Linked DNA regions of Homo sapiens: region 2 is linked to region 1. The links come from fine-mapping of genetic effects on gene expression. A gene starts in region 1. The other region holds a variant in brackets. All regions are shown on one strand. Distances are between the middles of the regions. Region 1 holds the start of GAS6-AS1 (GAS6 antisense RNA 1). Region 2 overlaps GAS6 (growth arrest specific 6).

The links. PIP is the estimated chance that this variant, and not a neighbour inherited with it, causes the effect.
Region 2: its variant is fine-mapped to the expression of GAS6-AS1 in atrial appendage (GTEx, PIP above 0.99). The same link has a PIP of 0.9 or more in fibroblasts, left ventricle and transverse colon.

What each region holds. Positions count from the first base shown.
Region 1 is chr13:113,810,721-113,822,487 of GRCh38, forward strand. GAS6-AS1 (GAS6 antisense RNA 1) reads left to right here and starts at 4,890. Exons shown (of 5, transcript NR_044995.2): 1 at 4,890-4,971. TMEM255B (transmembrane protein 255B) reads left to right here. Exons shown (of 9, transcript NM_182614.4): 9 at 1,016-6,275. The coding sequence ends at 1,183. GAS6 (growth arrest specific 6) reads right to left here. Exons shown (of 15, transcript NM_000820.4): 14 at 11,238-11,466; 15 at 9,829-10,298. The coding sequence ends at 10,144. It also overlaps LOC124903220. RefSeq lists enhancers at 4,774-4,843, 4,894-5,133, 5,194-5,313, 9,873-10,422, 10,972-11,520.
Region 2 is chr13:113,833,702-113,845,468 of GRCh38, forward strand. GAS6 (growth arrest specific 6) reads right to left here. Exons shown (of 15, transcript NM_000820.4): 5 at 6,027-6,149; 6 at 4,368-4,490; 7 at 1,812-1,934; 8 at 850-971. GAS6-AS1 (GAS6 antisense RNA 1) reads left to right here. Exons shown (of 5, transcript NR_044995.2): 3 at 983-1,063; 4 at 4,376-4,546; 5 at 8,668-9,140. Among named protein-coding and RNA genes, the nearest start is that of GAS6-AS1, 24 kb to the left of the region's middle. RefSeq lists enhancers at 3,581-3,790, 3,899-4,451, 4,291-4,350, 5,006-5,558, 5,730-6,306. The variant C/T (reference allele first, on the strand shown) is at 6,283.

The DNA.
Region 1 (11,767 bases):
GGCCGTCCGTGTCCAGGGGCTGAGGCACTGTACGCAAGGGTGTCAATCACACCTGAAGATGCCTCCACGGCAACACCCAGATGCGTGTGTGAGCCGCTGAGTCAGCCACGGTGACACTGAACCAGCCACACGCTGCTGGACGTGTGGACGTGTGGGGTTCATACGTGGGGCCTTTCCCAAATATGAAGAGTTGGGTGAGCCCAGGGGCCCCAGGCCTGGTGGACCCTAACTGTTGGTTTTGGAGTCAGGTCAGAGGCTCGCTGGCTGTGAGGAAGTGGGATGTGGTCTGAGGACACCCTTCCTGGGGCGTCCACCCCCTGCCCCATGCAGCTGTGGAGGCCAAGGTTGTGCCAGTGAGGCCCCGGCCACCCTCTCCTGTTCTGCCCCGGGCTGGGGCTGCTCCTTCTGGTGGCCCTGGGTCTGTGGGGTGGGGGCCCGTGAGAGTGGTCCTGGGTCTGTGGGGTGGGGGCCAGTGAGAGAGGTCCTGGATCTGTGGGGGGGGCCGGTGAGAGAGGTCCTGGGTCTGTGGGGTGGGGGCCCGTGACAGTGGTCCTGGGTCTGTGGGGGCCCGTGAGAGTGGGCCTGGGCCTGTGGGGGGGCCGGTGAGAGTGGTCCTGGGTCTGTGGGGTGGGGGCCGGTGAGAGAGGTCCTGGGTCTGCGGTGGGGGAGGGGGACGTAAGAGTGGCCCTGGGTCTCCGGGGGAGGGGAGGGGCGTGAGAGTGGCCCTGGGTCTGTGGGAGCCCGTGTGAATAGCCCTGGGTCTGTGGGGGGCCCGTGTGAATAGCCCTGGGTCTGCGGGGGGCCCTGTGTGAGTGGCCCTAGGTCTGAGGGGGCCTGTGTGAATAGCCCTGGGTCTGCGGGGGGCCCATGTGAATGGCCCTGAGTCTGCGGGTGGCCCTGGGTTGGCGGGGTGGGTGGGGAGCGTGTGAGTGGCCCTGGTATATGTCAGGCTTCCCTGTGGTCCGGCACGGGGTGGTCTCACCTGCTAACCCAGGGCCCTCTCTGTTTATTGCAGCCCTGCAGCCGCTTCCCAGTTGCGCCCTCCTCTGCCCTGGCTTCGTCTGAGGACCTGCAGCCCCCTTCTCCAAGCAGCTCTGGCTCTGGGCTTCCCGGCCAGGCTCCACCGTGCTACGCACCCACCTACTTTCCCCCGGGGGAGAAGCCACCCCCCTACGCACCCTGATAGAGGCGTGGAGTAAAAGATAACTTGTTTGTTTTTTTTTTTAAAAAAAAGGCAGCCTCTAGAAATCCCGCTTCTGTGGCCAACCTCCTAGAGAACCCGGGAGAATGTTCCAGAAGTCTGTCCCCTCCTTTCCTCCCTGGGCACACTGGTGAGGGAGGCTGGAACCAGGCAGGGAGTGGGGCCCTCCAGACCCAGGCTGGTGACACCTTGGCTTGGGCTCTGCTCACATCAAATGGCGCTGAAAGTTCCCACCCGGCCTCCTCCTCTGAGAGCAATTGTTCTGGTGTTTTCACATCCCTTAATTAATTAGCTATTATTATGATTTTGCAAAGACAGTGCAGCCCCGGCCTCCCTGCCTGTGTGTTCTTGTTTGTGGACATGTGTTGTGCGTTACACGTTCGTGTGTGCATCTGTGTCCTGGAGAAGCGCAGGGCAGAAGCCACCCGCCCCTCGTGCTGTGCTCCTGACGTATGCCAGGAAGGGAAGGACGCTTCGGCTCCAACGCCCAGCGCTGTGTCTAACCGCCTGTGAGTTGTTAGAATCCAGGGGCCCGGTTGTCTTTCCCAGCCCCGGATGCAAATCTGCCTGGGCCACTGGCACGAGGGTCTTCCCCTGAGCTGTCTCCCAGCTACGGCGCCTGGGCTTCCGCTGTCCTTCCGCGGCTTCTCCCTCACCGCACCTTGTCTCAGGACCCCTGGCCGCTGGGATGGTGGGGGACGGTGTTTCGGGGTCCTTTGGCTCAGGGTCTGGGGCCGCAGCACTCCCTGTGGAAACCAGCTTAGCTCCCCGCGGGCCCAGCATGCACCTGCCGGGCACACCTGGGGAGACGGGTGAGCACGCCTGGGAAGCAGCAGGTCCCGGGTGGGTCACAGGCCCCGGGTGGGTCACAGGACAGGTCTCAGGTGGGTCACAGGTCCTGAGTGGGTCACAGGTCCCGGGTGGGTCACAGGCATCCCGGGTGGGTCACAGGTCCCGAGTGGGTCACAGGCCCCGGGTGAGTCACAGGCCCCGGGTGAGTCACGGGTCCCGGGTGGGTCACGGGTCCCGGGTGGGTCACGGGCCCCGGGTGGGTCACGGGTCCCGGGTGGGTCACGGGTCCCGAGTGGGTCACGGGTCCCGGGTGGGTCACAGGCGCCCCAGTGACAGGAGTTCAGGATGCGCCACCCCAAAGTAGCCGAAGTCTCTTGAAAAGTGTTGGATGTGGGGAGAGGCTTTCTCTGAACTCCTGAAGTCAGATCCTCAGGGAACCAGGGACTCCCAGGGCGGGAGGGCGGGCGAGAGGTGATCCCATTGCTCCCCAGACGTGCCACAAGACACCAAGTCGCCGTCTCTGCTCTGTGGGCCGCTCACGGTTCCCCAGTCACTCCCTCTCCCCTCGGAAGCTGGCGCCTCCAGGCCTCACCGCTCTCAGGGCCTCACGTCCCTCCCTGCAAAGCCCCCCGTGCCTACGATAAACAAGTACCGCTCTTCTCCCGTGTGGGTCTGAGGTCTCCAGCTTACTTCACGGAACAGTGCCCACCTGGGAGGTGGAGCGGGGACTTTCTCCCCTGCCCAGTCCTGGATCTGGGAGAAAAAAGATAAGGTGGAGGGGAGCCACACTCGTGCAGACACAGCCTCCTGCCCCCTCTGCTGCCCGGGAGCCTCCCTCTGTCCGATGGAGGGTCTCACACAGCCTCTGCCCCCTCCGCTGCCCGGGAGCCTCCCTCTGCCCGACGGAGGGTCTCATCCTGTGTCCAGCGCTCCTGGGCAGAAGGCCCACAGCGCACATCCACACATGAACGGTGGCTGGCTGGGCCCAGGGGCCCTAACGGGCCTCTGAAAGGCCTGCAGCCAGCTCTGGTCTGTGAACCCGCCACTGCTTGTCATTTTTATCTTATAAAATCCAGCCTCACAAGCTTGCTGTCCAGGAGAATGTGGTCTTGGCCTCTCAGGGCTGACTGGCCTTGAACCAGTCCGGGAGGTCGGGCACGAGCCGGAGGTGCGGCGTCCTGTCTGGAAATCACCGCCCAGTTCCTCCAGGGCTGTGGGTGCCTGGCTCCGAGTAAGAAGCTGAACAAGCAGCAGAGACCAAGAGGTTTCTGGAGCGCCGGGAGATGCACTCACGAGCGCCTGTGGGGGAAGAAAAGTGTGCCACGGATTTCCCGAGTCCCCAGGGCTCTCACTTTACCTCAGGGAAGGCTCTATGGGCGCCGATGGTGCCGTGGTCTTGTGTGGGCGGTTCCTGGGCACCCTGGAGCTCGGGCTGTGCCCCCGAAGCTGCCTGGTGCAGGCACCAGCACCTCTTGGTGTCCTAGGGGTGCGAACAGCAGAGAAGCTGAACTGCAGGTCTGGGCAGGGAGTCTATGCCCCCTGGAGCTCTGGCCAGCAAAGTCACAGGAATAACCCTCCTTCCCCTCATGTCAGCCCTCGGTCGCAGGGTGCGGTGTGGGGGCATCAGAGTGCTTCCCCGAGGCTGCACTCACCAGCTTCCCCCAAACACAACATCGATCTTTCCCGACTTTTAATCTTGTCTAGAGTCAAAAGCTGTTCAAAAATATTCAACTCCAAGGTCAACAGTTTTGTTCTTGCCACAAAAATGTCCTTATCCTTTATCCCAGCCACAAAGAATGTGAACAATTTGACTCAAGGTTCGTGGTGGCTGGAGGGTCCCCCAGGTCCCAGGGCAGCTCCCACCTGGCGCAGGGCTCCGGCCAATGCCTGGCCTGCAGTGTGGGCGGCGGCTGCTCTCGAGGTGCACCTGTCTCATGTGGACGGATCCTGTCTGGGGCCACCAAGCTCTGCCAGCCTGAGTCACGGTCTGATGAACCCCCTCTCTGGGCTCCGCTGGGGCCTTCTGATCCCAGCCTCCTCTGCAGGGATGGGCTCCCAATCCCGCCCTCACTTGGTTCCCATGCACAGCCGAGGTCAGTGAGACCCTGGAGGCCGCGGGAGATGGGGTGGAGGGGATGGTGGGGCAGGGGGTGCTGGGGGGTTTGGGGGTGCTGTGGCCCCGGGGCAGGGGGTGCTGGGGGGTTTGGGGTGCTGTGGCCCCACCTGCACTCCCTGCCTCACTGGGACAGCACAGGAGACAGGCTTCTCCTGCAGCTCAGAGGTGGGGGCCTAGTGTAGCTGCAGGTTGTGACTGAGGAGGGCAGGGTCAGAGCATTGCCCTGGGCAGGGGTCCGTTGAGACTGGCCCCACCTTATTAGCTTGGGACCTTGGGTTACAGGGAGTCTCCTCCTGCCTCAGTTTCTACATTTCACACAGCAGCACTGCTCACAAGAGCTCCCAAGCAGAGGCAACTACTGAGTGGGGGAGGGACACAGTCCGTCCACATGGGGCCAACGGCCACAAAGAGAGGAAGGGACATGGGTGACGGTCCGTCCACGTGGGGTCACCGGCCACGGAGAGAGGAAGGGACATGGGTGACGGTCCGTCCACGTGGGGTCACCGGCCACGGAGAGAGGAAGGGACATGGGTGACGGTCCGTCCACATGGGGTCACCGGCCACGGAGAGAGGAAGGGACATGGGTGATATGGTTTTGCTGTGTCCCCACCCAAATCTCAACTTGAATTGTATTTCCCAGAATTCCTGCGCGTTGTGGGAGGGACCCAGCGGGAGGTAATTGAATCATGGTGGCTGGTCTTTCCCGTGCTATTCTCGTGATAGTGAGTAAGTCTCACGAGATCTGACTGGTTGATCAGGATTTCCGCTTTTGCTTCTTCCTCATTTTCTCTTGCTCCTGCCGTGTAAGAAGTGCCTTTTGCCTCCCACCGTGATTCTGAGGCCTCCCCAACCATGTGCAATTGTAAGTCCCGTTAAACCTCTTTTTTTCCCAGTCTCGGGTATGTCCTTATTAGCAGTGTGAAAACAGAATACTACAGTGGTCCATCCACACGCGGGTCTCACCCAGCCACAGAGAGGGAGAGGACGTGGCCCATCCACACGCGGGTCACCCGGCCACGGAGAGGAAGGAAGCTCTAACGGGTGCTGAGGCTGTAACACACAGTGCTCAGGGAAGGACACCAGACATGAAGACTGTGTTCTGTTTATATGCAGTGTCCAGAGAAGGCGTGTCCACAGACAGAAGCCGACTGGGAAAGGAGGTGCAGTCACTGCTCAGGGACACGGGTTCTTTTCGGGGAGGCAAGCGTGTTCGCAGCGTGTTCTGTATGGGGAGAGATGCAGTCACTGCTCAGGGACACGGGTTCTTTTCGGGGAGGCAAGCGTGTTTGCAGCGTGTTCTGGATGGGGAGAGGTGCAGTTACTGGTCAGGGACACGAGTTCTTTTCGGGGAGGCAAGCGTGTTTGCAGCGTGTTCTGGATGGGGAGAGGTGCAGTCACTGGTCAGGGATACGAGTTCTTTTCGGGGAGGCAAGTGTGTTCTAAGCGTGTTCTGGATGGGGAGAGGTGCAGTCACTGGTCAGGGACACGAGTTCTTGTGGGAAGAGGAGTGTCCGGGAGCCAGATGGCAGTGATGGGTGGACGGCCCCGTGGATGGACTGACCACCGACCCATGCTCTGCACTCATGAGGCGTGGCTATTGCTGTGTGAATCACATCTCCATGGAAACGGGAGTGGGAGAAACGGGCCCCAAGGATGTTGTGAAGATGGCCTTATGGGGCTGCACTGGTGACTTGGACAGTGCTGGCCACCGGCCCTGCTCAGTGAACAAGAGCCATGGTCATCACCCTCGCCACACAGAGCAGCTCCTCCTGCAGACTTGGGGACCCCGTGGCCACCAGACCCCGCGGTGGGAGCAGAGATGCCTCCGAAACTCTGGAGACCCACAGAGGCAGAAGAGGATTCCACGAGGCCGGGGCCCGTCAGCAGATCCTCAGACGGCGACACGCGCCACTTCCTTTTCTGTTTCCTAGACCTTTTAACTGATGGAATTCAGTAAGCAGAAAACGTGCTTGAAACAAGGGCACCATGGAGCGGACCCTCCCCCTCTCCCCTCGTGGAGTCCTTGACCCTGGGGCAGGTGACCCTTCTTGCTTTGCAGGCAGGGGCTGTGGCTGGAGCTTCTCCTACAAATGGGCTGTGCTGGGATTAGCCCGGCTGTACATTTGCTTTATGCTTCCGTTGGCATTTAAAAATCTGATGTTCATATTTGCCGTATTACGTGAAGTAGGACGAAACGTTCCTTCTTGCTTAGAGCAGTGTTTCCCCAGAGGTGCCCGGGCCCAGGGGACAGTGGCCAACCTCTGGAGACATTTCGTGTTGTCATGAGGCTGGGTGTCCAGGAGGGGGCGATGCTGCATCTGCTGTGCACAGGACGCGGCCACATCAAAGGACCCCACCTGCAAAACACATGCCCAACCTCCTTCCTCCTCTCCAGCCCAGAGTCAGGGCTGTCCCCCCTCCCTCCAGGGGACACATCCCCCCTCCCTCCACGGGATACATCCCCCCTCCCTCCACGGGACACATCCCTCCTCCCCCCACGGGACACATCCCCCCTCCCCCCACGGGACACATCCCCCCTCCCTCCAGGGGACACATCCCCCCTCCCTCCACGGGACACATCCCCCCTCCCTCCACGGGACACATCCCCCCTCCCTCCAGGGAACACATCCCCCCTCCCTCCAGGGGGCACATCCCCCCTCCCTCCACGGGGCACATCACCCCTCCCTCCAGGGGGCACATCCCTCCTCCCTCCAGGGCGCACATCCCTCCTCCCTCTAAGGGGCACATCCCTCCTGCCTCCCCAGGGCACCAGCACTTGCACCACGTGCTCTGTCTTCCCATCCTCTTGCACACCCCAGACATGCCTGGTTGTGGAGGGTGCCAGGTCGCCAACGTGACAGGCCTGGCTGGGCCTCTGTGTTGCAATTCCTAGCACCATTGGTTTTGCTTGTTTGGGACAGTGGTTATTATAACTTCTGGCACCCCCGGAACTCTAAGAAAACAATACTAGGAAACAGAAGTTCCTGATTCGTCTGGAGGCAGAGCAGAAACCCAGGCGGAGGGTTGTGTCCTGAGGACACTGGTGACTGTAGCCTGTGTCTGTGGGGGCCTCCCCACGTCTCTGTCCCTGAGACTGGCCGTTGCCTGTTTTTGCTCCTGGCCGTCTTGACTTGGGGAGGATGGAGGTTGGGCAGGAGCAGGCTCCCAGCCGGCTGGGGAACATTATGGGAGAGCACTGGGGGGCACCCACCAATGTGATCTGACGGACGCCGCAGTGCCGGGCTGGAGGCCGGGATCTGAGGGACGCCGCGGTGCCGGGCTGGAGGCCGGGATCTGAGGGACGCTGCGGTGCCGGGCTGGGATCTGACGGACACCGCGGTGCCGGGCTGGAGGCCGGGATCTGAGGGACGCCGCGGTGCCGGGCTGGAGCCTGGGATCCCAGCGTGCGGCTGTGGCCCCTGTGGCCGTGTGAGGCCGTGCAGTGGGCAGTGCAGGGCTCTCCTGGGGCCCAGGGGGCTGTGTTCCACGGGCTTCTTGGAGCTCTGCTCAGCTGGCTCTGGCATCGTCGGGGTCAGACGAGTTGGCCTGCTTAGCGAGCCGTCAGCATCCACGCCTGGGCCTCCCAGAACTGGGCTTCTGTGCTGATGGCCAGATCCGAGCCCTGGGCCCGACCATCCTCAGCCCAACCAGCACCTGGACATCCCGGAGCCAGCGTGGAGGCCTGGGCTGCGGGTCCCCGACCGTGTGAGCAGCCGGTGGCCATCTGTCCCGGCCCGAGTGGAGAAAGCGCATCTGCCTGCGGAAGGTCCACGTGCTGCTGGGCGAGGCTGGCGAGAGCCGTCACACACACGCGGGGCCGCTGGCGGCAGATGGACGTTTCCGAAGGGAGCCGGCAGGAGCCTGACGTCTGCCCTCTGAGGCCAGGGCCTCCCCCGTCACTATTTTCTCACGGTACCGAAGCGAAAGTTGCCTGCAATACCTCTTAGACTAGGTTGAAGTCCTGAATTCAGGCTGCAGCCCTCAATCAACAGAACTTCTGCCCAGGTGCTGCCAAGATTTTGGGGAGAACAAGAGGCCCTTGCCCGGCGTGTCCAGAGCAAGTGGCATCATGCCCACGATGGCGCAGGGTCATGGGATGTGGCCCGAGGAGCCCATAACTGGCACCGGTCAACAAGAGCCCCAGAGACACAGGGTGGGCCTGCCAGGGACCCTCAGGGACCACCAGGGCCTGGAGGCTCCAGCGTAGACGAGCTGGGCGGCTCTGGACGGCAGGGGATGGGGCCCCCTGTGCATGGCCCCTGGCAAGGTGCCTGGCTGGCCGTCCATCCGTGGGGTGAGCTCGGCCCAGGCGGGCAGGGTCCCTCCAGGTGGGCATGAGTGTTGCTGGCTCCCGAGCCTTGGAGAAGCTCTGCCCATTCCACAGCCGTCAGGCCGGGGGCCAGAGGGAAGCCGCTCCTTCCCGGCCCGAGGCTGCCCCTCAGGAGCCCACTCGGCCGATGCCACCTTGTCAGTCCAGCCAGCGGGGCCTCCCCTGTGGCCTTCAAAGCCACAGGCCTCTTTCTAGAAACCTCTTTGCAGTTCATTTGTGGCGATTTATCCCTGGATGGGTTCTCATGGATTCTATCCTTCTTCTCCACCCGACTTTTCTCTAGGTCAAGTGCTGACCCCAGCCAGGCAGAGGCAAAGATGCCCCGACGCACAGCCTGTCCTGCCCGGTGGGCGCAGCTCTGGGACTGACTGGTGGGAGGTGGGGCTGCTCCGAGCTGCCCCGTCTCACTCCTGCCCAGGGAGCTCCGAGCACGGGTGGGGGTTTGGTCTTAAAGTGGAATCCTGGTTTGGGCCTCAGAGCTGAAACCCTCCCTGATCCCCCGTGTGGCCCCTGCAGTGACCGCATCCACCCTGGGGACCCATGTTTGGCCCAGAGGCTCGAGCACAGGTGGCCGCGTCCCACGGGAGCGTCAAGCCATGAGTCTTGGTCGTCCCCTTGGGACCAAGGAGAAGCAGTGACTCCGTGGCCCCCACCAGCTGCGGCTCCGACATCCTTCCAGGAGGCAGGCAGGGTCCCGACTGCATTTCAGGCACCTGCCTGGCCGCGTTCCGGCTGCCCTGACCTTCCCTGCAGACTTGTGGCCTGCTGGGGTCAGAGAGCACCAGTGACCGCTCCACCCCTTGCAGACAAGGAAGCTGAGGCTGAGGGACATGGGGACCCTGCCAGTGGGGACGCGGGAAGCAGGGCTGGCTTTGCTCCTGGCAAGCTCTACCCCAGACCGACACAGAGAAAGCAGTTTCCCTTTCTCAACAGAACACACTTGAGGCCCGGAAGCAAGTGGATCTGTGCAGGAGGGTGGGGACGGGAATGGCACAGGGGTGCAGGCGCTGCCTCGGTGTCTTCCGGCCCTCGGTCCCAGCTCGGGGTCCCTCCCAGGTTGGCTCAGAGGCCGCTGCCCCAGCAGCCTGCATTTGTGTGCCAAGCCCTCCTCACTCAGCAATGACTGGCTGCCTGTGGTGGGGGCCGAGCAGGGCGTTCTCCGCATTTACAGAACAAGTAAACTGAGGCTCCAGCCCCTGCCGCCACTACCAGAGGAGTCAGAGGCTCCTGGGGAGCAGACCGTGGCTGCCCAACCAGGCTGGGAGCAGAAAAGAGGGAGGGATCTTTGGAGCGGCTGAGGGTGCGGCCTGGAGCCCTGGCAGCCCCGCTCATCCCAAACGCTGCTACGTGTGCAGAACCCCGCGGGGAGCAGATGACGGCCACGCGGTGTTACAAAGCTTTCTGTAAATATTTTATTTTCCATATTTTAGAGTCAGAAAGAAGCGCTTGGTAATAAAAATAATAGAGAATTATTTTCTTCGAGCCCGCTCTGCGCTGCGCCGGCCTCCCCGCGCCCGGGCCCACGGCTGAGTGCGCGGCGTCAGAGGCCCCAAGTCCATCTCACTATTTACAGATATGTTACAGGCCGGGATGGTCACAGAGGAAAGCCCAGCTCTCAGCATGGCCCCACGTGGTGAGGAGCCCCCAGGCTCCTCCCGGCTGTCTCGGACAGAGACTGAGAAGCCTGCCGCGTCCCGTGGGGGCCTAGGCTGCGGCGGGCTCCACGGGGGGGCAGGAGTGGGCCGTGATGTCGCTGTGCTTGTACGCCGCCTCGTCCAGGTCCAGCAGCCTCCGGTTGACCTCCAGTGTCATGCAGCCGCGGTAGAACGCGGTGACTGGCGCTGAAGTCACCGGCACATCTGGGCCGCAGGGAGAGAACAACATATCTTAGCTCACCACGTGGCCGGCCCCGCCTGGCCCCCCCACCCCCGGCAGCGCTTGTGGCCAGCCCCGGGTTCCCTCCGAAAGGGCAGGGTTTCCCTTTCTTCTCTAACTTCTCGGTCCCCGTTCGTTTGGCCGCAGACCCGGCAGACAAGCAGGAGGCATCTGCCAGCCTGGGCTCTGCAGACGCCAGCCCTCCCTTCCCCGCTGGGAGCACAGACAGTCCCATCGGTTAAACGTGATCTTCTTCTGTGCCCAGTGAGTCATTCAGGCTGCAGGCCTCCTGGCTCGCTCTCATCCTCTTCAAAGCTCTGTTTATTAAAACTAAGTGGAGTCTGTGTCTGGCAGCCAAGAGAGAAATCCTGCCGTTTGCCGCAAGTGAAAACCTGCGGGCAGCCGAGGACTTGCCGGCTCCCACGTGCCTTTCCGCTGACCCTCCCAGCTCATGGCAAGGACATCCCCGGTCCCAGCCTCTGTGCTGTGTAGCCCATGGGACACGGCAGGACGCCCTGCTGGACATGGGAGGGGCTGGCGGTCACTCTGTTCGCTGCTAACAGCTGCGGTGACAGCCGCGGGTCCCAACTGCAGCCTGGCCCGAGGTCTGCCCAGCCCTCTCCCCCGGGGCTGGTCTGATGGGTGTGGACGAATGCTCCCTGAAGATGCAGGTTCGTGGGGCCTGACTCAGGCCAATGCCGGCCCCCGTACGTGTTTCTCAGTCTCAGCCAATGACCTGACCAGCACCGAGACACCATAATAGCCACTAACGACCCACCTGGACTTCTCCTTCCTCTTAAAACACAAGTCCTCTTCCGCATTCACTACCAGAAACCCCAGCCTGTCCAGGTTAGATCTGGGGTGACCAAGCTGGGCCTCCCTGGAGCTCTTCACCCGGGTTGAGCGGAGCAGGGAGCACCTACCTGGCAGGCCGCCAGCAAAGGTGAGCACGGGGCTCCGCAGGTGCCTCTCGAGCACGGCCAGCCTCTCCTGCAGCTGCGCGGCGCTCACCTCGCTCTGGCCCCTGGTGCCGTCCACCTCCAGGGTGGCCTCACCGTCCCTCAGCGAGACGGTGACCACGTGCTCTTGGCCGTCGCAGACCTTGATCTCCATTAGGGCCAAGGCCGTATGCTCCACGGCCAGGACCACCAGCTGCAGGAGACCGAGGTGTGGTCAGGGCCTGCCGGCCACCCCTACGTGAGCTGTTAGGTCCAAGCTGGTCCTCACAGCTGCTGGCCACCCCTACGCCGCACGCCTGTCTCCGTCCAGGGTTCCCTGCAGCCCTGGGTCTGGATGCTCGCTGACTGTGGATGACACCCCCACCCCACCTGGGGCTCAGCTTCTCTGCACGTAAAGCCAGGGGCCAGCCTGGGAGGCTGTGGGGGAACAAGTGTGGCCCCCAGGTTGGGTGTGAGAGGGTCAACCCCAGCCCCAGGCACCAGGCACACACAAG
Region 2 (11,767 bases), 23 kb after region 1:
GGCAGTGGTGTGACAGGCACCGGTGTGACAGGTCGGTGTGACAGGTACTGTTGTGACAGGTCGGTGTGAGACACTGGTGTGACAAGTCAGTGTGACAGGCAGTGGTGTGACAGGCACCGGTGTGACAGGTCAGTGTGACAGGTACTGTTGTGACAGGTCGGTGTGAGACACTGGTGTGACAAGTCAGTGTGACAGGCAGTGGTGTGACAGGTCGGTGTGACAGGCACCAGTGTGACAGGCCCCGGTGTGACAGGTAGGTCATGCTGTGACAGGCCCCGGTGTGACAGGTCGGTGTGACAGACACCAGTGTGACAGGCCCCGGTGTGACAGGTAGGTCATGCTGTGATAGGCCCCGGTGTGACAGGTCGGTGTGACAGGCACCAGTGTGACAGGTAGGTCATGCTGTGATAGGCCCCGGTGTGACAGGTCGGTGTGACAGGCACCAGTGTGACAGGCCCCGGTGTGACAGGTAGGTCATGCTGTGACAGGCACCGGTGTGACAGGCCCCGGTGTGACAGGTCGGTGTGACAGGCACCGGTGTGACAGGTCGGTCACGTTGGCTCCCTGGCACGCGGCAGAGTGGGGACCGTGCCCCCGTGAGTGTCACACTGGGGTCCACACCAGGCTGATCCACTGTGAGCTGGGAGTTGCCATAGAGACTCTATAAATACAACCAAACATCTTCCAGGGAACAGAAGCGTTTCTCATCCCAAACCTCCACATGGCCCTGGAGATCCCCAACACCTTAGCAAAGGCCAGGTCTTCACGGAAGTGTTTCTCCCGAAAGCCCCCACCGGCGAGGGCCCCCGGAACCACCGTGAAGGGCCCGCGGGGCCAGGGGCCGCCTACCTCACAGGTGTCCATGTCCTGGGACAGCTTGAGGCCCCCACGCCCGTCACAGTGGCAGGTGTAGCTCCCTGGGGAGTTCACGCAGACCTGCTCACAGCGGCCCTGCAGACACTCGTCCACATCTGCCAGCCAGAGGGAAGCGGCGGTGAGCCGGGGAGGCCTCTACGCTGTCCCGCCGTGGGATCACACCGCGATTGCTCAAACCACACGCAAGGTGCGCTCAAGGAATTACATGCAGATTCTAACGGGGGCGGCTTGGGGGTCGCGTCCCCCCCCACTGGAAAGCTAGGTTGCACCCTCGGCCTGCTCCTGCCCGGGCTCTTTCTTGAGGGAATAAAAATGTCGCAGGTGTCCCAGGAGGGTGCTCCCAACGAGCCAGACCCACCCCCGCTGCCGGGCCGGTGTGGAAGGCAGGTCTGGGAAGCACAGGGTCTGGGCTGTGCAGTGAGGTGTCCCCCGGAGCACAGAGGGGCCGACAGCTGTGGTGGGAAATGGAGGTCAGTGCAGGCAGCCTGGGCTTCCCCACCCTCTCTGTCTGCCTACTCAGCCCCACTGTTCCCATCACTGGGGGCACGGCCCCTCTTAGAGGCTCTACGGCCAACAGGGCCCTCCCCATGGCGGCTGGAAAGAGAGAACAGTAGAGGGAGGCTTGCTGCTCCCCGTCCCTTTGGGGAGAGGCCCCGTCTATGCAGGTGGAGAAGGGTACACACGTGTGTACATGCGGTGTATATGCATGTGTGCGGTTCGTTCATGTGCACAAGGGGCATGGGTGCCTGTGTGTGCTCACGTGTGTGCGGGCATGGTGGTAGCACAGGCCATTACCAGGCTGATAGAAACAGGGAGAAAGAGACTTTCTTTCACCAGAAGCACCCGGTTGTTAGCAACCGGCTCGGGCAGTGACTGGCACCCGTGTCTAGACTTGGGCGTCAGAGAAAGCGAGGGTGACCGCGTGGCGTGGGTACCTCGGCAAGCCTTCTCCTGGGAGCTGTACGCAAAGCCCTCGTCACAGAGGCAGGAGTAGGAGCCGGGCAGGTTCTTGCAGCGCGCCTCCCCGCAGGCCTCCGAGTCTGCGCACTCGTCTATGTCTGCAAGCAAAAAAAAACCGGCCAACCGCAGCACAGCGGCATCTCAGACGGGGCTGGGGCAGGCGGCTGCAGGGACTGGCCAGGGCACCACCCAGAGGTCGCATCCAGACTCTGTGGGGCCAGCGCGCCCTGGCCCCATTTCCCTGCCCTCCTCCCCTGACCGGGCAGCTCCCGGGGTGTTGGTGCACGCTTCTGATCAAGGCCCGGCTGGGAAGGCTGACTTCAGCCCAGCAGGTGGAGAGCTGGGAAGGGCCCTGCTTGGTGGAGGGGTGGGGGGCGGCGGTGCACGCTGTGCTGTTCCATTTAAATGACGGTGCTACAGGACACGGGGCCGTAAAAAGTAACCCCCCGGGGGCATTTGAAACTAAAACCCCAACCCCAAAGAGAAGCATTTACTGGTTTCAATCAATTTTCACTACCGGGTTAAACCACAATCCTAAGACTTGAGCATCTAATGTGGGACAGATGCTGTTTACGGCCAAGCACCCTGGGGTAGGAGGGGCAACCCTGAAATGAAGAGCCCTTTAGTCACCAGAGGAGAGCAAAGGCAGGGGCACGGAGAAAGGTGGGGGAGGAGAAGGGGGAGTAGGAGTGGGAGGAGGAAGGGGGGAGGGGAAGGAGGAAGAGGAGGAGGAGGAGGGGGAGAAGGGGGAGGGGGAGAAGGGGGAGGGGGAGAAGGGGAGGGGGAGAAGAGGAGGGGGAGGGGAGGAGGGGAGGAGGAGGGGGTAGGGAGAGGATGGAGAGGAGGGGGAGGAGGGGGAGGAGGAGGAGGGGGAGGAGGAGGGGGAGGGGGAGGAGAATGGGGAAGGGAAGGAGGAGGACGGAGGGGGAGGAGGACGGAGGGGGAGGACGACGGAGGGGGAGGAGGAGGAGAAGCAGGGAGGAAGAGGAGAAGGTGAGGGAGGGGTGGGGGAGGAGGTGAGGGAGGGGGTGGGGAGGGGTGAGGGAGGGGGTGGGGAGGGGTGAGGGAGGGGGTGGGGAGGGGTGGGGGAGGAGGAGGAGAGGGGAAATAAGGATGGGGGAGGAGGAGGGGGAAAAAGAGGAGGGGGAATGAGGAGGAAGAAGAGGGGAATGAGGAGGAAGAAGAGGGGAATGAGGAGGAGGAGGGGGAGGAAGAAGATGGGGAGGAAGAGGGGGAGTGGGGGGAGGAGGAGAAGAAAGAGGAGGAGGAAGATGAGGAGGAGGAGGAAGATGGGGAGGAGGAGGGGGAGTGGGGGGGAGGAGGAGGGGGAGTGGGGAGAGGAGGAGGGGGAGTGGGGAAAGGAGGAGGGGGAATGGTGGGGAGGAAGAGGAAGATGGGGAGGAGGAGGAGAGGACGGGAATGCCTCTGTCACTGTGGGCAGTAACTGTGAGCCTAGACTTTGCCGGGAGTGCCCGACTGGTGCAGGGACCCACGGGAGATGCTTTAGACGTCATCTCTCAGGATCGGCCTAGTCTTCACCTCTCTTTAAACCTGGGGTGCTGCTGTCTTCCAGGTCAGGGATAGAGCAGTGATGGGAGGGGCTCTGTCCTCGGCGGGGAAATGGGTTTATGTGTTAAGATGGGAATCACGTCATCTGCACACAGGGCTAACTCCTGGGTGGTCAGGGAAGGGAACCACCAAAGTGGACAGAAATAGCAGCTGCCTTTTGAAATCGGGGGATGGGGTGTGGCCCCTCCTGTCTGGTCAGATTCACTCTCCAGATCCTGGGGCTGTTTCTCCCTGAGCAACTGTCTGTCCTGTCCACGCAGTTCGGTGTCCTGGACAGTCAGCAGCAGCGCTAAGAACTATGCCAGAAACTCTCAGGGACACGCCTGGGCATGTCCAGATACAACGTGGGGAGGGAGGAGGAAGGTGCTCCCCCTGCAAAGTGGCAAAGGGCCAGTGGCAGCAGCAGCACCTGGAACAGCGTCGGGGGCGCGCACATTCACAGTGACTTTCTGGGGTGTCCTGGGGCTCCCCAGCTCTGGCCCTGGGCTGAGGGAACCCCAGACTGAAATATGAAAGGAAGTGGGGAGGGCAGGGCTATATTTAGTGGACAGAGGGAGACCAACAACGGGGTGCTTCTGGGGATGCTGGGGAGAGTGGACGGCGGGGGGACCCTAGCCTGGAGCCCTGACCCACAAGCTCACTACACAAGTGCCTGGAGCACTTCCAGGCTCTGTGAGGCTCTGGGGAATGGACGAGGCCCTACAGCCAGCAGTGTGGCCTCATGGGCTGGGCCGGCCCCCTGAGTCCTGGCCCTCAGATGCCGGGTGAGTCATCCTGGTGTGGTGCCGAGCAGCTCCCTGTGCTGCGGCTGGCCTGGGCTTGTGTAGTCTCTGCAGGATGCCCCATCCCATCCAGAACCACAGGAACCCAGCCAGCAGCAGCCGCTTGCAGAAGAGCAGACATGACCGAAAATAGAAGGTGGGGAGAGGAGAGAGGAGAGAGGCCTCACCCCAGGGCCTTACCTTGGCAGGTCCTGCCATCAGAGGAGAGCTCGAAGCCGCTGTGGCAGGAACAGTGGAAGCTACCCGGCTTGTTGTGGCAGATCTGGAGGCAGCCCCCGTTCTCCTGGCTGCATTCGTTGACATCTGGGAACAAGCACAGGCCTGAAGGGGAGCCCAAGGGTGCACAGCCCCTGGCTACGGTAGGAAGAGATCCCAGAGGTGCACAGCCCAGCCCTGGAGCAGGGAGGGAGCCCAGAGGTGCACAGCCCAGCCCTGGAGCAGAGAGAGATCCCAAAGGTGCACAGCCCAGCCCTGGAGCAGGGAGGGAGACCAGGGGTCACAGCCTAGCCCCGGAGCAGGAGGAAGGGACCCCGGGGGTGCACAGCCCAGCCCTGGAGCAGGGAGGGAGCCCAGGGGTGCACAGCCCAGCCCCGGAGCAGGAGGAGGGGACCCCGGGGGTGCACAGCCCAGCCCTGGAGCAGGGAGGGAGCCCGGGGGTGCACAGCCCAGCCCCGGAGCAGGAGGAAGGGACCCCGGGGGTGCACAGCCCAGCCCTGGAGCAGGGAGGGAGCCCGGGGGTGCACAGCCCAGCCCCGCAGCAGGAGGAAGGGACCCCGGGGGTGCACAGCCCAGCCCTGGAGCAGGGAGGGAGCCCGGGGGTGCACAGCCCAGCACTGGAGCAGGGAAGGAGCCGGGGGGGTGCACAGCCCAGCACTGGAGCAGGAGGAAGGGACCGCGGGTGTGCACAGCCCAGCCCTGGAGCAGGGAGAGAGCCTGGGAGTGCACAGCCCAGCCCCCGAGCAGAGAGAGATCCTAGAGGTGCACAGCCCAGCCCTGGAGCAGAGAGGGACCCCAGGGCTTGGACCTCACACCCCACTCAGCAGCCCTAGCGTTTCATGGCCCCTGGTCCTGGCCTTGCGTGTGGAGGTAGATGGTGGGAGGGCATGGGGGATCCCCAGCTGCGGTCTCAGCCTGGGGAGCTGCTGGCAGTCACAGCCCACAGGGCTCAGCTCCCTGGATGCCCATGTGCTTGCAGGAGGAGGCTGCAGGCCAGGAGTGACCTCTGGGTGCCGAGGACAGACAAGGCCAGGCCAGAGCTGGCCACTCCTTAGCAAAGCCCTCCCAGGCCACCTGTGGGGTAGGATTTGCCAAAGGGGACAGGCTGGCCTGCTGGGCTCTCCACTATGGGTCTCCACCAGGCCCTGGAGCTATTCTTCCTCCAGGGTCTTCACTGACACCACAGGTCTACACTGAAGGACGGTCAGAGGTGAAATCTCCCCCCGGCCTTTCAATCAGTGGGTGCCACTGACACCACAGGTCTGCACTCAAGGACGGTCAGAGGTGAAATTTCCCCCCCGCCTTTCAATCAGTGGGTGCCACTGACACCACAGGTCTGCACTCAAGGACGGTCAGAGGTGAAATTTCCCCCCCCGCCCTTCAATCAGTGGGTGCTGAGGCATCACTTGGTGTTTCCTTTCCTTCCAGCCCTGCTCCCAGAAAGGAGACTGCAGCTCCTCCCAATTCTCCTGGGGCTCCAGGATACCTCAGGGCTGCAGCCTCCTTGGGGCTGTCGGAGAGCAGCCTGAGGATGGCCGTGCCCCGGAGTGGGAGTGAGGAGCGGGGATCAGGGCAGGGTCGGAGATGGAGGGAGACCCCGCCTTTGTCTTCAGCCTCACGTACCTTTGTCGCAGAGCCGGCCCCCCCAGCCAGCTTTACACAGGCAGAAGAAGTTGCCCATGAGGTCCTGGCAGGCTTGGGTCCCCTTCCTATCGCAGGGGTTGGGCGTGCACTGGTCAGGCAGGTCTGATTGGGGACACAAAGTGGAAAATCATGTTCAGCTGCCCCACCCCTGCGCGCCCAACGCAGCTGAGATCGGGGCGGCTGTGGGGTCTCGGGTCCAGCCCGGAGGAGCTCTGAGGGGCGCAGGCTGAGGCAG[C/T]CCCTGGGCACCCGAGCCCTCTGTGCTGGCCTAGGGCTGACAGAATAGGCTGGCGGGCCCTGGGGCCGGCTCCAGGAAAACTCAGATCAACTGGGAGGGAGTGCCAGCAGGCCTGGACGCAAGGTGGGAAGGGCTGAGGGCAAAGGAGCAGGAACTGCCTGGCGTGAGGCCTGGGAGCTCAGACCTCCCAGGGAGTAGGCACACAGAACCCCCAGCTGACCTGGGGGCTTCCAGGCAGACTCGGAACATTCTGCCTTCCCTGGCCAGCCCCTAGCCCATCTCTGGTGAACTCTCCCTGCTGGGTGTGGCGGGGAGGACCCCAGGCCCAGGCTGCACTGCCAGAGGGGTCCTCCAGGAAGCCCCCCTCTTTCTGCTTAGCTGCCCCCTCTCCACGTGTCTTGATGGCTTTAGGCCAGGTGTGTTCTGCCCTTTCTCAGGGTGGTCACCTGGGCTCAGCTCCTGCAGGGCCAGAGGTCAGGGGAACGGGTGAGGGCCTGAGGGTGGGAACCCGTGCCAGTGCAGCTGCTTCCCAAGCAGTCCCCCATCCGAGAAGCTGCTCACAAACACATTCATACGAGGAGCTGCTCACAAACACGCTTCCAGGACACGGACCCAAACCACGTCCCAGAGGCAGGCAGGGAAGCCCCCGACAGTGCAGTTACGCAAGCCTGAGCCCCGGGAAGTTGGCAGAAAGAACGACAATTACACCCGGAGCTCAAAGAATCCTTTCATGGCTGCTGGCAGAGCAGAAGCAGCTCGGGGCTGAGCATGGCAGTGCTCAGGGGCGCGGTCCACACTCAGCTCAGCCCCACATGAGGACTCAGCCACGCTCAGCTTAGCCACACAGGGCTCCGTGGGGAACCCTGGGTAGGGCCCCCCTGCTGGCTGAGAGAGGGCTCCGGTCCATTGATTCCACACAAGTTCAATAAGGACCAGTCCCTGGGAAAAGTGCAGGCCGGGCCAGCAGGGCCCTAGGGCACTGGGCCAGCATCGTCCTAAGGGGTCAGCCCTGGTGGGGGCACGTCGAGTCTTCAGTGCATGGGCTCTCACTGCCAGCGTGTCGCTTCTGTTCCTGAGGCTCCCAAGGTGACGTTTCCCACCAGGTCTGTAGAATGTGGCGTTTCCACCAGAGGGTCTGGGCTCGGCTGTCAGTGCAGGAGCCGCTTCCATCCCCACCTGGCCGGGGTCAGGGGTGCCCGGTGCCAGGGTGAGCGGCGGGCGGGTCTGTGGTTCACAAAGCTGAGTTCCTCCAGCTCATCCAGGGCTTACAGTCACTGCCTGTGGCCGGCACAGACACAGCCCCTGTCCTCCTAGGCGGGTCCAGGCACCGCGCTCACCAGAGGCCCTGGCTACGAGTCCCAGGCTTCTTGGGGAAGCTGCCCAACCACACTGGCTTCTTTCTGCGACGCTTCGCCGTATGCCTCACAGCGTTTCCTCCGTATGCCTCACAGTTTGCTCCGTACACCCGCGTTTCCTCCGTATGCCCCAGTTTCCTCCATATGCCTCAATTTCCTCCATACGCCCCACAGTTTCCTCCGTATGCCCCAGTTTCCTCCATACGCCCCGGTTTCCTCCATACACCCCACAGTTTCCTCCATACGCCCCACAGTTTCCTCCATATGCCCAGTTTCCTCCATACACCCCACAGTTTCCTCCATATGCCTCAATTTCCTCCATACGCCCCCCAGTTTCTTCCATACACCCCACAGTTTCCTCCATATGCCCAGTTTCCTCCATACACCCCACAGTTTCCTCCATATGCCCAGTTTCCTCCATACGCCCCCCAGTTTCCTCCATACGCCCCACAGTTTCCTCCATACGCCCCACAGTTTCCTCCATACGCCCCACAGTTTCTTCCATACGCCCCACAGTTTCCTCCATATGCCCAGTTTCCTCCATACACCCCACAGTTTCCTCCATATGCCTCAATTTCCTCCATACGCCCCCCAGTTTCTTCCATACACCCCACAGTTTCCTCCATACGCCTCAATTTTCTCTGTACGCCCCACAGTTTCCTCCATATGCCTCAGTTTCCTCCATACGCCCCAGTTTCCTCCATACGCCTCAATTTCCTTTGTACGCCCCAGTTTCCTCCATACGCCCCAGTTTCCTCCATACGCCCCAGTTTCCTCCATACGCCTCAATTTCCTCTGTATGCTTCAGTTTCCTCCATACACCTCAGTTTCCTCCGTCTGCCTCACAGTTTCCTCTATAAGCCTCAGTTTCCTCAGTACACCCCACAGTTTCCTCCCTACACCTCCGTTTGCTTGTTTTGCACAAATGACTGACAACAGAACACTTGTGGGTGTGGACGGAGCTCGCGTCTCGAAGTGTTTCTAAGATGCTATTTTCAGCAGGTCACTATAAACGCTTTCTACTCTGAAGCACACAGGGGCTGGGGCTGGCCTTCGGAGTTACGAGGAAACGAGGACCAGGACCAGGGATTCTGCATCAGCACAGCCGCCAGGAGCCGGCCGGGGCCCCATCCCTGACACTGCTGTCGCCCGGCTGTACCTGGGTGCTGTGTCCGCGGGGCGTCTGGAGACGTCGATGTGGTCATAGCAGGGCCTGGAACGGGGAGGTCTGGCCTGAACTAGAGAAATGAGGGGCGTATCCGCTTCTCCACCCTGGCCTCAGATGAAGAGGCTCTGGGGGCAGGAGGGAGTCAGACACGTGCAGGGCAGGCGGCCTGTGCAGGGCCCAACCCTCCGGCACCAGAACCTGACCTCCTCAGAGGCCCCCACCATGGAGGGATGTCTGGGGGATGCTGTGCGCTGCCGCTACGATGTTTGGTTAGAGATTAAAGCCATTTCAGAAGTGGACACCTGCCCATGTGATGCAAAGGGCTGGGAACCCGGTCTTGACTTTGCCTGGAATGCCTTTCGGAAAGACCTCTGTCCCTGAGGCTGAGGGACAGTGCCTGCTCCTGCCAGGTGCCCAGCTCTTAAGCGGTCCCCAGACTCATGCCACCTGCCCCGGGGCCTCCCCCAACTCATTTGTTTATTTCCCTGTTGGGAATGTATTGATACCTCTAGGATGCAAGGACGGAACCACACCTGAGGGGTGGACAGTCAGCCGGTGCCCAGCAAATATCTGTGGAATTTCCTCCACACAACAGGGAAAGCGATGGAGACAGAAACCTCTGCAGGCCCCCGAGGGCACCCACTTCCCTGACCCCGTCCACCTCCCTGACCCCCGCCCACCTCCCTGATCCCCATCCCGCAAGCTGGGCCTAGGGTATCGGTGGCCTGGCTGGTCATGCCCTGGGCGCCAGCGCCTGTTCAGGAGGTGAAGGGTTTATCTCAGCTTGGCCCATGACTGCGTTGAAGGACAGGAGGGAGCGGCTGTGGCTGTGGCTGGAATCTGAAGCCGGTGCGGGCGGCCAGGGCCTTTCCCTGGGTGGTGACGAGCGAGGACCAGAGCCCTGTCTGCCCGAGGGAAGGGCGAGGGGACACTCCCCGTGGCGGGGGTGGGATCCCGGTAGCCGGGGCTCAGTGACCGCTGCCTGGGCCACCGCCTGTGGGGACCTGACCTTCCTGGGGAAACCCATGGGTCAAAGGAGCCGAGAAATCCAAGCACCAAGTGGCCGCTATGGCAGGACGGGCGCGTTCGCAGTGGAGAAGCTGGGTGTGTCCGTGGGAAAGGAAAGAAATGGAAGCAGAGGCTCTTCAGGGGCACCTGGGAACGCAGCCTACACTCTTCCCAGGCCTCCTCCCTCCGTCCACTGTGCCGCCTGGGTCCTGGGACAGCCTGAGGGCCGCAGGCTCCCATGCAAGGCCCGCTGGGGGCCTGCTTGTCTGGGGCTGAATTTGGACTTTATGGGGCTATGGCTTTAATTTCACAATGACCGATAACCAGTGAACTGAAGCCAGGACAGCACCGTGAGCACCAAGTCAGAGAATTTTCACGAGGGAACCAATGAACAGGAACAGAGTGTGAGGCTGCCCCAGCTGCATCCTCCGGGAGGCGCCTTCCCAAGGGAGTGCAAGGCTGCCTGCTGTGGCCAGGCCACCAAAGCACCTTCTTCACCGCCAGGCATCTTTTGAGGCACGCGAACATCAGAGGCCCCAGCCACGTGCTCTGGAGGAGAAGCTGAGAGCCCCAGGCCACAGGCAGGGCAGCCTCTGAGGGCCGGCTCAGGGAGAGTGGCCGGAGCTTCTGGCCTGGGGCAGGTGGACCCGTTAGAAACTGCATGTGTTGCCTCTGGCACCAGCCACAGCAAGAGATTCTCTTCCTATCACACAGGGAACAAACTCAAGGATCTTGACCTTGCCCTCCTCTCCCCAGCTGGCCGCACTTGGGGACGCTGATGCCACAAAGGAAATAACCAAAACAAGATAACTCTATTGGGCGGCGGGAACAGAAAGGAACATGTAGCAATCACTCCTCTTCATCCATGCAAGGAAGCGAGGCGACGCCTTGAAAAGGACGGCCTTCTTTGCTGCAAATAGCCAGAAGTGAACTGAGCAAAGGAAGCACGGGACGCACAGGAAGAAAAGTGCTCCAAGGGACGGACAGGACGGTGCCGGGGTTAGGAAAGCGCAACACTGTTCAGACACAGTCTCCGATATATGAATGGCAAGCCCAGTTAAAAATATCTAAAGGGCTTTTTTAGGTTTTTAAGAATATTTTTAAGGTTTAGTTTTATTAAAAAATAAGCAAGACAACCAGAAAAAAGACTGAGGAGGGCATAGGAGACCCACCCGCGTGCATGAGGCCGAGTCTAAAGCTGTGGCCACGGCCTGTGGAAACCCGGCAGAAAATCTCCCAAATACCCAGCATATGAGGACGGCAGCAGGTGAGGCACTGGGGTGAGACAGACTCAAATGTGTGGTGTTGGGGCAGGAACTGAGCCTGCAGTCTAGATCCCCACCTCATCCATCACGTCAAAAGAAATTACGGGCGGGTCACAGATGAAAACACCTAACAGCAGGTAACTGTTTTGTAATCTTGGGGAGAAGCCTAAAGCCCAGGAACTAAGAGAGTATAACAAGTGTGAATACAGAATTTAAAAGAAGAGACTGGTTTAGCAATCACTAAGATAAAACACGCGTGACAGGATCTGCTTGTCTCCTCTGAGCACGCAGGAGCCTCTGCCCCAAATGCAGACATTGGGCCCTACGTGGCACCTGGCTACTGTGCATGGTTGCAGGTCAGGGCAGGCCGGGCCACAGGGCAGGGCCACCCTCCCATTCCCATGTTTACACTGAGCATTTCCTCTGCCTGTGTCTCTTGGGCTGGGGTCTGTGATACAAGTCCGGGAGGCCAGAGACGCCCACGGACAGTGCGTGGGGCTTGGGGAGCGGGACTGAGCCACCTCTGACTCCTTCTGCTGACTGGGATCCAGCTCCAAAGCCATGCCTGGGAAGAGACTCCTGCCTCTCCCAGGATGACTCCGTCCCGCCACGCCTCTGCTCTCAGCGCCCACAGGGACTCACCAAGCTGGACTTTCATCTAAAACTAGACACACGTGACGCCAGCGGAC